Linked DNA regions of Homo sapiens. The protein of the gene in region 2 purifies or fractionates together with the protein of the main gene of each other region. This does not show direct contact. Each region holds a gene or a part of one and is shown on either strand. Other genes may lie near its edges.

The links. The genes of interacting proteins can lie anywhere in the genome.
Region 1: the proteins of SPRED2 (region 2) and GNG5 purify together in Homo sapiens (affinity purification with mass spectrometry; 2 studies listed by BioGRID and IntAct, with this or other methods). This does not show direct contact.

What each region holds. Positions count from the first base shown.
Region 1 is NC_000001.11:84,503,572-84,511,251, forward strand, and holds the start of GNG5 (guanine nucleotide-binding protein G(I)/G(S)/G(O) subunit gamma-5), read right to left. Parts: upstream 3,011-7,680; 5' UTR 2,865-3,010; intron 2,848-2,864; exon of another isoform or gene 2,815-2,847; intron 2,731-2,814; 5' UTR 2,521-2,730; coding exon 2,440-2,520; intron 1-2,439. UniProt on the Homo sapiens protein: Guanine nucleotide-binding proteins (G proteins) are involved as a modulator or transducer in various transmembrane signaling systems.
Region 2 is NC_000002.12:65,310,597-65,317,617, forward strand, and holds the end of SPRED2 (sprouty-related, EVH1 domain-containing protein 2), read right to left. Parts: intron 6,288-7,021; coding exon 6,138-6,287; intron 3,574-6,137; coding exon 2,905-3,573; 3' UTR 255-2,904; downstream 1-254. UniProt on the Homo sapiens protein: Negatively regulates Ras signaling pathways and downstream activation of MAP kinases. Recruits and translocates NF1 to the cell membrane, thereby enabling NF1-dependent hydrolysis of active GTP-bound Ras to inactive GDP-bound Ras.

The DNA.
Region 1 (7,680 bases), on a different chromosome or scaffold from region 2:
TCATTTTTCACCAAATATTGTAATAGTGTTTAGTGTTTTCATTCATATTAACCAGCAGGAAGCATAAAGAGTACCTGTTAATTTTCTGTTTAAAGTGTAGGTGGGGTCCAATGTAACTCGCTTTCACAATTTTCAAGCACCACTATGTGCCGCATATACTTACAGGCACTAAGAATACATAAGAACAGCCAGAGCCCTGTTGTTATGGAGCTAACAGTTCAGAGAAAATGACAGACAAGGTGCTCTGTAGTAAAATGAATAATCTTTTAGATGGTGACTGGGTGCCCACCTAAGGGAAGGTGTCTGAGGTGACATTGAAGCTGAGATCTCAATGACAAGAGATCCAGCCAAATAACCATCAGTGAGAAACAGCATTCCAAACAGTGAGGAAAGCTGAGACAAAGACTCTAAAACTGGAACAAGCTGCTAGCCCCTAAGGCACTGTAACAATCACCATCCAGGAGGTTGAAACCCTGTAATCCTGGCCTATTAGTGCCCCTTCTCACTCTCAAAAATGTCCTGACCTACCTATGACAGTTTGTCAAGCACTTATGGTAAGTTCTATCAATTGTACTCACACATAAAGGTTAAAAGTAAGATTGTGCTAGTTTAAAAATCTCACAAAAAAATCACCTAGCCCAGTCATTGATAAAACAGATACACAACGTTAAACCACATTTAGCAACATGTCTAAAGAAAAGCTCATTAAAAAGTACAAAAGGGGATGCTCCCCTTCTTGCTACAGCCTTAACATCAGGCAATAACTCCAAAACCAAATCATGTCTGGTGCCTTTAATGATCCCGACCAGAACCAGAAGTCTACTGAAGATTTAGGTAGGATCAGTTTTGGGGAATTAGGGGAGCAGCAGCTAGGGTTTTCAAAGTAAAGCTCTTGGAGTATTTTAGCCTGAGAACCTCATGTCATTTTCTTTGGAGACTAAAGATGTACAATTTATTGCTTTCACTATCCCACCCCCATTTTTTTTTCTTGGTCCATCCTATCTATGATAAAGGCACACCTGAATGACATTTAATGGTTACGAAATAAATGATTTCGAGTTTCAGAGCCAAATCCAGCCAAGACTGACTAGAAACCACTGTGATGAGGTAAGAATTGGGAGAGTAGAGAAATGGATTCCAAACTGCAGTGAGGTCTACAGCATTTCAAGGACTGGACGTGAGGGGGATCCCACACCAAGACGAATGAGAATTCCCTTCCCTTCTGAGTTGACCACAACTGAGTAAGCTAGGTCCCTGACATTTCTAGTTAACAAAACTAAATGGGAGACTCTCTCTCAGGAGGATCCTGCACCAAGACGAATGAGAATTTCCCTTCCCTTCTGAGGTGACCACAACTGAGTAAGCTAGGTCTCTGACACTTCTAGTTAAGAAAGCTTAGAGACCCTCTCAGTTCACAAAACATTTCGGCAAGTAATAAAGACTAGCCTGATGAGTATAAAATCAAATCATCTTAGGAACTGGCTGCTTTTAACAGGGCACATGATTTACATTCTTGTTTCTTTTTTTAACTGCAGAAGTGTTTCACATGTAGCCTGACCTATTGTACCAGAAAGAAGCCAATCCATTTAGGACTGTAAAAATCAGGAAATACTTAGAACAGCACTTGAATGTCAAGTTATTCTATCAACACAGACAAAAGGCTTTTTCTCCCAAAGTACCCCAAGACAAGGCCAATACTAACCAGACGCCAAAATAAGACCAATAATTACCCACAATAATCATTTTCTCCGGCATGCGGACCAGTCGATATCCCCAAGGTCAAATATGAGCAAACTGTGCCATAGGTATGAAATGCACGCTTTGTTCGAGGTTGTACGGGGCACTGACCGGAACTTTACACTCCAGGATCGTTTCGAAAAATGCTTATTCAATCCACAGTTTAAGTTATGCAATAATTCGCTTAAAAGTATGTGTTCAACGGACAAGAGAAGTTGAAGGTAAGAATTTAATACTAAAGGAAGTAGGTTTGGGAAAGATCAAATGGGAGAAAAGTCTGCTCTGAATCAAAAGTCGGAAAATACCCTGTCCGATGAGAAACAGGAGGCTGGCAAAGTGGGAAAGGAAGGGTGCGGACAGCGCGCGGAGGCGCAGCTGTTGGTGAGACCAGCCGAGAAGGCTGCCAAGGGAGGTAGAGACGGAGGAGGACCGGAATGTCGGCCACGGTTCAACCCAGGGGCCAGCCCGCCTCGGAAAGTCCTGGGGCGGAAGGGCGAACTAATCGTCCCCCTAAAACACAGCGTAGACCCACGCGGCGCCTGCTCTAAAGCTGGCCGCTCCCCGATCGCCGCCGCTGAGCGCGCGTCCTCTCCAGGGGAAGCGAGGGCCGGCGCGTGTCCCGCCCGCCCCCGCCAGCTGGGCCGCCGGATCCCACCCGCCGCCGCCGCCTTCCTCCCGCCTCGGCCGCCCGCCCCCGCTCACTTTTACGCGGTTGAGTCCGGCCTCCAGCCGGAGCTGTTGAACCACTTTCTTCATAGCGGCGACGCTGGAGGAGCCAGACATGGTGCACGCGACGGCCGGGCCGATTCGTGGGTCGGTGGGTCGTGGGCCGTGGGTCGGCGGGGCCAGACAACTCAGCGGCGCGCGGCGGGGGCGGGGCTCCGAACTTTGTCTCTAAGTTTCCGGTTCTGTGCTCAGCGGCTCCACCCTCGGTGCGCATGCGCGCCTTGCCAGCCCTCTGTTCCAGCTCCACACCCGGCCCCGAGCGCGAGCCTGGAGGAGGGGGAGGAGAAGGGGCGGAGCAGTCGGTGGGCGCGGCGGCTGCTGGAGGCTAGCGCGACCCGACTCTTAAGTTTTCTTTTCCTCTCCAGAGGGGCCGATTAGGGAGAGGTAAGGAGAGAGCTTACCGTTAGCCGCGAAGAACTAAGAGGGGGTCTGAAGAGGACCAGGGAGGGAAGGCAGAGCTTGTGGGAGTTTCTAAAAGGCCCGGCGGCGGGTGACCAGGAGGTCTCAGTTTTCCTCCCAGTTTGTGGGAAGGGTTGAGGGAAGTGAGGGGAGATACTGGGTGAGGCGTAGGAGCTACTGTGCACCCGGCGTGAGTCACCCGCACACCCCCGCCCCGTACAGGCGTGTCTCTCTGTGACCCGAGTTTGGCCAACAGGCATTTTCAGTTCCACCCCCAACCCCCAGCCCCGCTGACCCGAGGCGGAGAGCAGGCGCGGAGGTCGCTGTCGCGTACCCAGCGGAGCCGGGCGGGCGGGGAGCAGGGGCGCTGATTCGCTGGAGAAGGGATCTTCTCGAGGTTTGACTTTACTGGCTTCTTAGCTCTTGAATCGGTTTTTCTGAAGGAGATTGTGAAGAAGCCAAGGTGCTGGCTGAAGATTACACCTGTCTGCTCGGTTACCCATTTACTCTGGAGAATTAATGCTTATTGTACTTTTTAAAATAAAACTTATTTTTGTGTTTCCGGAAAGTTTGCTCTTTAGTATTTCCGTTGTAATTTATTACCTCCTGCTTGAAATTGAGTACCAAAGGAGTTTTTAGGAGAGAGGGTAGGGTCTAACCAAACAAAATAGGCTCAGCCAGTAGGTCTTTCTTTCATCCACGGAAATATGTGTGTTATGTCACAGCACTAAGGGCAGATGTTTCCTATTTCTTTTCGGGTAGTCAATCTCCGAATGCGCTGATGTTTTCCATTAATGTTAATAATTTTATCATTAATGGATTTCAAATTTTTTATTAGGGAAGCATGTGTAATTGCACTGGTCAACAAAATCTAATTTATTTACTCAACAGTTTATATCAGTTCGCAAAAATGTACATCGTAAGTTTAGCATTTTACTTAATTCATACGGATGTAATGATTGGGGTTAAAACCAGGGTTTGAATTCTGGCTCTGCTACTTACGGTATTCTTGGGCAAGCCACTTAAGTTACTGAGGCTTTATTTCCTTATTTCAAAGTAAATTATACAGCTTCGTAGAGTTGTTTTTCGGAATGAAATGACATTATATGTAAAAAGAATGTGAAAGCTATCTCAATAAATATTGTCTTTTCCCAAAAGGTATTGTAATTATTTCACCTTTGGTGCTTTGTTGACTGTATAATGCTAAAACGTCATTCATACTTTACAGATTTGTAAGATTAAACACAAGTATCTATTCAAAGAATGATCTGTTTTACAGTAGTTGTAAAATATATCACTGAACTCTTAGAACCGTGGTATGTTAATGCTGGAAGAGATTTTAGGGAATATATGGTCCAATAATTACTTCTGTGAGGGAGACTGTTGAGGAATAAGCAGTGTTTTAGGCCGAAACAGTTTCAGAAAAAAAAAAAATTGTTGCTTTTTTATTAACTGCTGCATTGGGAAACCACAGACTGGAGTGCTGTCTCAAACACCAGGTGTTATTTTTTTGTAGCGTGTGTTTAAAGATTCTATTTAGGATACAAAAGAAAAATAAAACATTGAGGCCTGGTATGGTGGCTCACGCCTGTAATCCCAGCACTTTAGCAGGCTGAGGCGAGCAGATCACGAGGTCAAGAGATCGAGACCATCCTGGCCAACGTGGGGAAACCGTCTCTACTAAAAAATACAAAAATTAGCTGGGCGTGGTGGTGCGCGCCACCCAGGAGTCCCAGCTGCCCAGGAGGCTTGATGCAGGAGATTCGCTTGAACCTGGGAGGCAGAGGTTGCAGTGAGCCGAGATGGCACCACTGCACTCCAGCCTGGCGACAGAGTGAGACTCCGTCTCAAAAAAAAAAAAACAAAACCATTGAGATAACTTTAAGTTCAGTTGCATCTGAAGTGATTACCAGTAAATATAGTTTATGAACTATCTGTATCTCTTAAACTTTTGTTTAGATGTTCTTTGACCTTCCACAATGATCTAAGACATTTCAAACATGTTACCAACTGTACAGACATAGATGCTCACTGTTCAGTTGGTTGAAGACTGGCCTGTTGTCACCAAGAGGATTCTTTTAGCAATAAATGCCAAGAAAAGACCACCAAGTAATCTGTCACTTTATGTTTTGTCAGCAGAGCACTGTCAATTTAAATTTACCTGAGATCTTCACCGTATTCAATTAATTAGTACCCTAAGTTCTTTAGTTCACTAGGTCTAAATTCAGAATTTGAATAAATAAGAGTCACATGCTGTACTTTGTACTTTAACTAAAAGCTGAATCTCTTCAAAGGGGGATTTCACAATTCTGACTTCTTTCTCAAAGAATGAGCTTATTCTGTTTTTATAATGGCTAAGGAAATTGAAGTTTGGAGAAAAAAATATATACAATAGCTACAAATAAAATACTTAGGAATTAACCAAGGAAGTTAAAGATCTGTACAAAGAAAACCATAAAACACTGATGCAAGAAATTGAAGAGGACACAAAAAAAATGGGAAGATACTCCATGTTCATGTATTGGAAGATTCAATATAGTTAAAATGTCTCTAATACCCAAAGCAATCTACAGATTCAGTGCAATCTCTATCAAAATACCAATGACATTCTTCACAGAAGTATTAAAAACAATCCTAAAACTTATACAGAACCATAAAAGACCCAGAGTCACCAAAGTTACCCTGAGCCAAAAGAATAAAAATGGAGGAATCATGTTACCTGACCTCAAATTATACAACAGAGCTATAGTAACCAAAACAGCATGGTACTGGCATAAAAAAAAAAAAAACATAGACCAGTAGAACAGAATAGAGAACCCAGAAACAAATTCATTCACCTACAGTGAACTCGTTTTTTACGAAGGTGCCAAGAACATACATTGGAGAAAGGACAGTCCCTCCAATAAATGGTGCTGGGAAAACTGAATATCCGTATTAGAAGAATGAAGCTAGATGTCTCTCTCCTCGTATACCAAAATCAAATCAAAATGGGTTAAAGACTTAAATCTAAGACCTCAAACTATGAAACGTCTATAAGAAAACATTGGAGTTGGGGCATGGTGGCTTACACCTGTAATCCCAGCACTTTGGGAGGCCGAGGCAGGTGGATCACCTGAGGTCAGGAGTTTCAGGCCAGCCTGGCCAACATATAGTGAAATCCTGTCTCTACTAAGAATACAAAAATTAGCTGGGCGTAGTGGCACATGCCTGTAGTCGCAGCTACTTGGGAAGCTGAGGCAGGAGAATCACTTGAATCCGGGAGGCAGAGATTGCAGTAAGCGGAGATCACGCCATTGCACTCCAGCCGGGGTGACAGAGTGAGACCCATCTCTCAAAAAAAGAAAAGAAAACAGTGCAGAAACTTTCCAGGACATTGGATTGGGTAAAGATTTTTTGAATAATGCCCTACAAGCACAGGCAACCAAAGCAAAAATGAACGAATGGGATTACATCAAGTTAAAAACCTGCACAGGGCCAGGCACGGTGGCTTACGCTTGTAATCCCAGCACTTTGGGAGGCTGAAGCAGGTAGATTTCTCGAACCCAGGAGTTGTATAACAGCCTGGGCAACATGGCAAAGTCAAAACCCCATCTTGACAAAAATACAAAAAGCTGGACATGGTGGCATGTACCTGTGGTCCCAGCTACTTGGGAACCTGCAGAGGTCAAGGCTGCAGTGAGCTGTGATCATGCCACTGCACTCCAGCATGGGCAACAGAGAAGCCCTGTCTCAAAAAATAAAAATAAAAACCTGCATTACAAAGGAAATAATCAGCAAAGTGAAGAGACAACTCACAGAATGGGAAGAAATATTTGCAAACTATCCATCTGATAAAGGATTTATAACCAGAATATATAAGGAGCTCAACTATATAGGAAAAAAATCTAATAACCCGCTTTAAAAATGGGCAAAAAAGCTGAGTAAACATTTTTCAAAAGAAGACTTACAAATGGCAAACAGGTATATGAAAAGGTATTCAACATCACCGATCATCAGGAGAAATGCAAATCAAAACTACAATGAGATATCATCTCTCCCCAATTAAAGTGGCTTTTATGCAAAAGATAGACAATAACAAATGCTGGTGAGGATGTGGAGAAAAGGGAACTCTTGTACACTGTTGGTGAGAATGTAAATTAGTACCACCACTATGGAGACCAACTTGGAGGTTCCTCAGAAAAAACTAAAAATAGAGCTTCAGTATGTCCCAGGAATCCCACTGCTAGCTATAGACCCAAAAGAAAAGAAACCAGTATATCGAGGTATCAGCACTCCCTTGTTTACTGCAGCACTATTCACAATAGCCAAGATTTAAAAGCAACCTAAGTGTCTATCAACAGATGAATGAATGAGTAAAGAAAATGTGGTACAAATAAACAATGGAGTACCGTTCCGCCATAAAAAAGAATGAGATCATCTCATTTGCAACAACATGGATAGAACTGGATGTCATTATGTTAAGTGAAAAAGCCAGACACAGAAACACAAACCTCACATGTTCTCACTTATTTGGCAGTAAAAATTGAAACAGTTGAACTCATGGAGATAGTAGAATGATGGTTACCAGAGGCTGGGAAGGGTAGTGGGGTGGGGACTGGGGATGGTTAATGGGTACAGAAATATAAGTTAGATAAAGTGAATAAAATCTAGTATTTGATAGCACAAAAGGGTGATTATAGCCAACAATAATTTATTATACATTTTAAAATAAGAGTATAATTGGATTTTTTGTAAAACAAACAATAAATGCTTGAGGTCATGTATACCCTATTTACCCTGATGTGCTTTTCACACATTGTATGCCTGTATCAAAATATT
Region 2 (7,021 bases):
TAGGAAGAGGGGGTGTTCCTGGGCGGTGGCCTGCAGCCTTCCTTTCACTGAGGCATCCGAGCCCAAGGAGCTGCAGTCTCCCCTTGGGAATATGACATAACCATAGGAGGAAAGGGCCTTGAAAAAACAGACCGGTGTCCACATGTCCTTCGGCACAGGAAGCCCTGTCCCATCCTGTATGCGGGAACTCCAAGATCTGCCAACGCTCTAGCATCACCTCGTCTCCTGCCAGACAAATACCCCAAAGCCAGCGATCTGATAGGATGTGTTTATATTTACACGGTACATTTTAAAGCAATGGCTACATTGGTCATACATATTAGAAACCATAAAAAAAAGTTAAGAACTAAAATGTACATCATACACTTGTATATATATTTTTTACACAGAGGTAAAAAGGCTTATTATAAAAAAATCAATACAACAGGGTTTTTAGTATACAGGTAAAGAATGAATTATGCTTCAGGCACTTTAATTTGTTAATGTGAGCAAATAGCTTGGGGGGTCGGGGAGGCTTCTGGACAGAAAATCTTTTGGTTAATGTTTTGTTACCACAGATACAAAAATAAAATCTGAATAATTTCTCTCAAATGATTGACGTCAGTATGGCAAAGCTGACTGGGAAAATACTACACACTGTTCAGCTGCAGTGTGGCAATTAGAGACGTATTTACATAAATGTCCCCATGGCTGTCTTTGTGCCCTTAACCGATGCCTTCACAAACCAAAAAGTATACGTGGAGTAAGATCTGCTAGCGTAACTCTTAAAAGGGTGGAAAAGGACAAGGGGTGAAAGAAGAGAGAAACAGGTAACAACTAAATAGAGGTGACAAACAAAAAACAGCTGGGATATGTGCGTTCTTATTGAAATAAATAGGGGCACTTGAACTGAGGTCTAAGGAAACGAACATTAGTGTTGTGCTTTGTAGAGAAGAGACCCTAGAGAAAGACCCCAAGGAAGTGCCTCCGGGTCGGGGGAAGGTGGTCTCTCGACAGCACTGGAGGCTGGCTGAAGGTTTTCTAGATGTTCTCCAGGCATGGATGAGGTTCTCTTTTCTTCCATCAATCCAGATGGACAGCTCTCTGCTCCTTTTCCAAACTGGAAAGCCTAAACCAGTTACTCCAATGAATGAAGACGTCTACTAACTGACTCATAAGCACACTGGGTATTTACACCGGTAATCTACTAAAGAAAATCGATGAGCTTGTGGACGAGCTGGAAACAGCCCCATGAAGGTGAGCACAGCTAGCACTTTCCCAATATGATTGGCAGACTGGAAAAAAGTCCCTTTCCTTGAAGACTGGTGTCCTGTGTGCAATAAAGAAGGAGTGGGGAAAGGGAGTGGGGAGCAGGCCATGTCTTCTGCTGGCCGCTACCACAGAAAGATCGTGGCGGGAAGAACAGCCGGCGTCCGCAAGCCTGTCCCCGGTGGTCTCCACGAGGTTCTGATTGTACTATGCTAGGTATAGGTAACCACTCTTCACTTTTCTTCTTTCTTCAATAAGAAGATTTGGCTAATCCTTGCAACGTATTAGAAAAATACTCTTTTCCAGCTAATTAGAAGCCTCCTCCGTGGCAAGGCGACAGGCAGAACCAGTTGGCTGACCTAACCACCTGTGCACCCAAAGTGGCGAGTCTGGGTTTGGAGTTGCAGGAGAAAGACACTTAGGCATTGGAAGGGTTTTTACATATGGCCTTGTTTTTTCCCCAAGTATAAATGAGGAATTTGGTGATGTGAAATTGAGTCCAAAATGAAACGAAAACATAAACCCATGAAGAAAATGCAACCCACCACTCTTCAAATTTATGACATTTAAAAATCCCCTCTCCCCATTAATATAAAATAGCCAGGGGTTGGGGGGAAGAAGCTCCCTATGGTTTTATTCACCATAACCTTAGTGTTTCTCAACTGGAACTTGTTCGTGGGAACACTGATTTGTGTTTGAGGAAACTATTTGGTTTGCAAAACAACAAGCAAAATTTCTTACTTCACTAGTATCCTATTCTAATATTGCTAAATTTTTAGAAGTGGTGGCAACACAATTTAAAAAATGTTCTACTTTAGGGGTAATGGGGAGGCTCATAGAAACCTGAAATCCCCATTCTAGCCCTGGTCCAAGAGGATGCAATGCAGTTGAAGGAATTTTCCTGATTCTCACAAGTTAATCTGAAGTTAAGGCTCAATTCTCAGTCTATTACGGGTGAATGTTTTGCATCAGTGAATCATTTCAACAGATTTTGGGGGGGCAGAAAATGATGATGGGCTAAAGATAGAAACTGCAGCTTACATGGGAAATTTGGCTTTAGAAAAGTTAAAGCGATATTGTTTTGTGGTACAAGTTTGTTAACTAGCTCACCTCCTATACATAATAACTGACTGCAGGCTGAGATACTTCTGTCGGGTTTCATCATTCTCACATCCCATTTCCGCTGAACCAGATGCTTGCTAGCGACAGGCAAGGTGAACCAAGAGAAAGAGAGTCTTCGACGCTCTTGGAAAAATCAACTACAAAACCCACCGAAAATCAGCAGTTCCAATTGCAGACTCCTTTGAACTGGAAGAGGCGGGGGAGGAGGAAACAGGAAATCAACACATGGATGAGACAGTTAGCTTGGTTACAGATTGTTAATAGTACAGGAGTCTGTGGCGAAGGTTCCTTCCTCAGAACACTGTGCGAGCGTGTGTGTATGGATGTGGCTGCTGCAGTGTGGGCGGCAGGGGGAGTGGAGAGTCTACCCGGCAGCGTCCCTGGCTGGAATGGTGCCTCGAGGTACCAGGGAGCTGGGAGGCCGCTTGCCCTCCTCGCTCCTTGGAGTGGAAGGGAGCGGGGGAGAAGATGAGAGTATGTAAGAGACGAGTTCCCCTGTGGCTGCGGATGGAGGGAGAAGGGAGGGAAACTGAGTCACGCGGCCGCTTTGTGCTTCCCGCCACAGCACCTGCACATCACTCCGCAGTGGTAGCAGGCCCGAAGGGGCAGGTAACAGCACATACAGGGGGCCAGGAAAGACAAGGCAATAAGAGCCATCCACCGGAGGCAAAACTTCTCGTCGCTAGTATCGCACGAGCAAGGGTCTGTATAGTCTCCCTCGGGGTCCGACATACAGTGATAGAGCATGCTGTCCGCGCACCACATGCAGCTCACCCGGCGGATGCAAGTTCTCACGGAGTCGGGCGCGTCCTGGCAGTGGCCCCGGCGGTTCTCCTCGTGGTTGAACATGTCCCTGCAGTACACGCACCGCGAGCGCTCTCCGTCCTCCTTCCGCCGCCGCGACTTGCCCCGGGAGGGCTGCGTCTTGATCACGCTGCCCCCGCGGCCTTTGGGGTCCTCGCCTAGGCCAAAGTCTGAGGAGTCCACGTAGGGGTAGTTGTAGTCATGCTTGGGGACCTCGCCCTTGGCGAAGCGCACGTAGGAGGAGTCCGCGTCCTCCGAGGGGTCCGGGTACTTGCCCCTGACGGGTGCGTGCCGGTAATCCTCGTACCCCGTCATCCAGATCTTCTCCCGGGGGTTGATGCGCACGATCTCCTCGTCGTCGTCCGGGAAGCTCACCTGGCGGTAGGGCCTTGGCATCGGCTGTCCCGTAGGAGAGGAGACATTATTTTACAGCAGCGGCCAAAAAACAAACAAACAAAAAAACACCCCACCTTCTCCCTCCCTAGCCGTCCAAAATGCACCTTTCTCGATAACTCCATCACGATGCTCCGTGAAGAAACAGACCCTTCCTGAAATTACTGAATATCCTGTCGCCCAGTCAGAGATGTATTTCAAATAGAGTCTCAATCCATTAATGGGCCAGGAAATCAATTTCGTGGGTTGAGACCGGCAGTATTTTCCCTTTCTGGTGACGCACTGCCATACAGGCAGGGGAGTGTGCACATGGCAAGGGCACAGTGTGATGCGTTCTCAGGAGCATGGCACACTCAGATCAAGAGGCAGAACAGGACCTGTGCCCCAGAGTATCTTCCGCCTCCCTCAGGGATCTCCTAGCCCCAGTGTGAGGGCTACACTCACTTCTAAAGGCCTGCATTAGTTTTGCCTATTTTTGTATGGTATGTTCTCTTTTGTAAGGCTGGCTTTTTAAAAATTGAAATAGAATAAGGACACTGGAGTGCAATACATGTGAGAAGGTAAGTCCTGTTTTACGAAACTTCATTATCCATATGTGCACAATATGTCCACAAAGGATCACAATAGGAGATGCATTTCTCCCTGTGGGTGTCTCCTTCAAGAGACAGGGGACACTAGGAAACAGTAGCTCACCATGTCATCTGGTGAGATGCGGACAGGAGAAGGATAGAGTGAAGGCTCCGGAAACTGAAGTTTCACTCCTGCCAGGATCTCACAAATAGTGAGTGGCCAGACCAAGAGCCACACCCTCTAGAAACCTGCAAATCTAAGCTGCATTCTCCCTCAGGGTGGAAGAGGCTTTTCTCTGCAGTTAGTCCTGCTACAGGCTGCAACCCTGCCTTGTCCAGAGCAGCAGACACTGAATAAATATTTATTAATTACATGCATATAACCCTGGCTCACCCAGGGCCTCTCAGTGGAGGCAGAGAACTGAGACTTCTTGCTTTCGAAGTCCTTTGGGCATGAAGGTTTTTCAGGGGTTGAGGAACGTGGCTCTGGAGTGACTCACTGCAGTCAAATGCTGACATTTTCTAGCTAGTACCTAAGACTCAGGTTCCATTTCTGTCGAACTGCATAGGACTGTTTTGAGAATGAAGAGAAACAATCTACAGAGGGTGTCAGCTCACAGCCTTGCTCACAGGATGCACTTGATAACTCTCGCCATCACAGTCATTATCATATTGTTACGGACTTGATCATGCGCTTATTAGATTTACCCATCACTTCCTACCAGAGGGCAGGGCCATGTCCCACACATTTTACCTTAATTCCTGTCAAATTCTTGGTATCAGAGTTGCCTAGATTTTTGAAAATCATGATTTCAGAAGGATTTCAAAACAAATCTCGGAAACTGACACGGGCTTTACTAATTCTTTATTTTGGACAGTAAGGAAAGTAAAAAAGTTAATTTCCATCTACTGCTAGCATAATGTGATATTTATTTATTTATTTATTTTTTGAGATGGAGTCTTGCTCTGTTGCGATGACGCAATGGCGCAATCTTGGCTCACTGCAAGCTCCACCTCCTGGGTTCACGCCATTGTCCTGCTTCAGCCTCCCGAGTAGCTGGGACTACAGGCGCCCGCCACCACACCCAGCTAATTTTTTGTATTTTTAGTAGACACGGGGTTTCACCGTGTTAACCAGGATGGTCTCAATCTCCTGACCTTGTGATCCACCTGCCTCGGCCTCCCAAAGGGCTGGGATTACAGGCATGAGCCACTGCACCTGGCCAATAATGTGATTTTTAAATAGGACATTTTAATCCCAAAATATTAGGAAGCACAATCTAAAATAATTTTTTTAAAAAGAGTCAAATAAATCTAGTTTTATGTTTAAAAACAAAACAAAACAACTCACTGCCCTTTTTTCTCATTTCAAAGCAGCCTAGTGGCCACAGCACCCCACACAGGCACCAGTCCATGCCCCATGATTTGGGAACTTGCTCTGCAAAGCAGCCACTTGGTAAATATTTGTTGAACTACCGAATTCTGAGCTCCAGCTACATCCGCCTGAGCAAGACTGGGCCTGTAGCCTGTAAGGCTGGGGGCTCGAGCCAAGTGTGCAGCATTCCTTAGTCCTGATTGTGGCTCTGGGCTTCCACACAAAGCTGGGAGGCCCTTTGGACAGAGGAATGCAGGACGCAGTGTAGCCCCCTGGGTGAGAACAGGCTTGGATTTGAATCTCGTTCCATCAGATACTCCACCTCTCTAAGCCTCAGCTTCCTCATCGATAACCTGGGGAGGCTGAAGACTTGCCTTGTGGGGCAGTTTCTGAGGATTAAACCACATAAAGCATATAAAGGGTCTGGCAAGGTGTCTGGCACACAGAAAACACTGGATGAGGCTGAGGTGCCACCACCAATGCCACTTTCAATATGAAGTGGGGGTAAAGGCAGGAGCAGGAGAGGCCTGTGGTCATGGAATTTGGCTGAATAGGAGGGGAAAGAGGCCATTCCAGAATCAGAGGCACCACCCTGATGCCCTCAGAGGAACAGGGCTGCTGCTCACCTGATCGAGGTGATAGTGGTCTGTGGGGTATGAGTCGTGGAGGTGGCCCAGGGTATAAATCCTCCGGTGCTCACAGGATGTGGGAGAGGAGATTGTCCGAGTAGGTTGCTCTCTCTTCTGAGAGGAATTAGAAGAACTGTCTGTAGCTGTCTGTGTAGAGGGAGGTAACCAAGAGTCAATTTAAAAACAACAACAAAAACCCCACGCAGCAAACCCTGACATGCACTATTCAAATACTAGCTATTCCCTGGTTGTGGCAATTTGCTGCTCTTCCCAAAATCTTGAGTTTGTCTTGGCTACAACAGGAGGACCCCTGAATGGCCAGATTGTCTAAACACAATGTGGCTGGTTCAACAGGCAGAGAAGCCCAGCCACCAGACCCTGGAAAGGTAGGTTTTTCTTAAATGCGGGAATAGTGACTGGGTGCGGGGGGAAAGGCTGGATATACCAGGCTCCCCAAAGGTTTGTGTTCTAGTTTGATCAAGAATGGTTACCCTGGCCAGGCGCGGGGGCTCATGCCTGTAATCCCAGCACTTTGGGAGGCCAAGGCGGGCGGATCACCTGAGGTAAGGAGTTCAAGAGCAGCCTGGCCAATATGGCAAAACCCTGTCTCTACTAAAAATACAAAAATTAGGCAGGCATGGTGGCAGGTGCCTATAATCCCAGCTACTCGGGAGGCTGAAGCAGGAGAATTGTTTGAACCCGGGAAGCGGAGGCTGCAGTGAGCCAAGACTGAGCCACTGTACTCCAGCCTGGGTGACAGAGCAAGACTCCATCTCAAACAACAACAACAACAACAACAACAACAACAACAACAACAACAACAAAAACAAAACATAAATAAAAGAATGGTTATCCCATCTGTGGCCCTGGTTGTGAGGTGT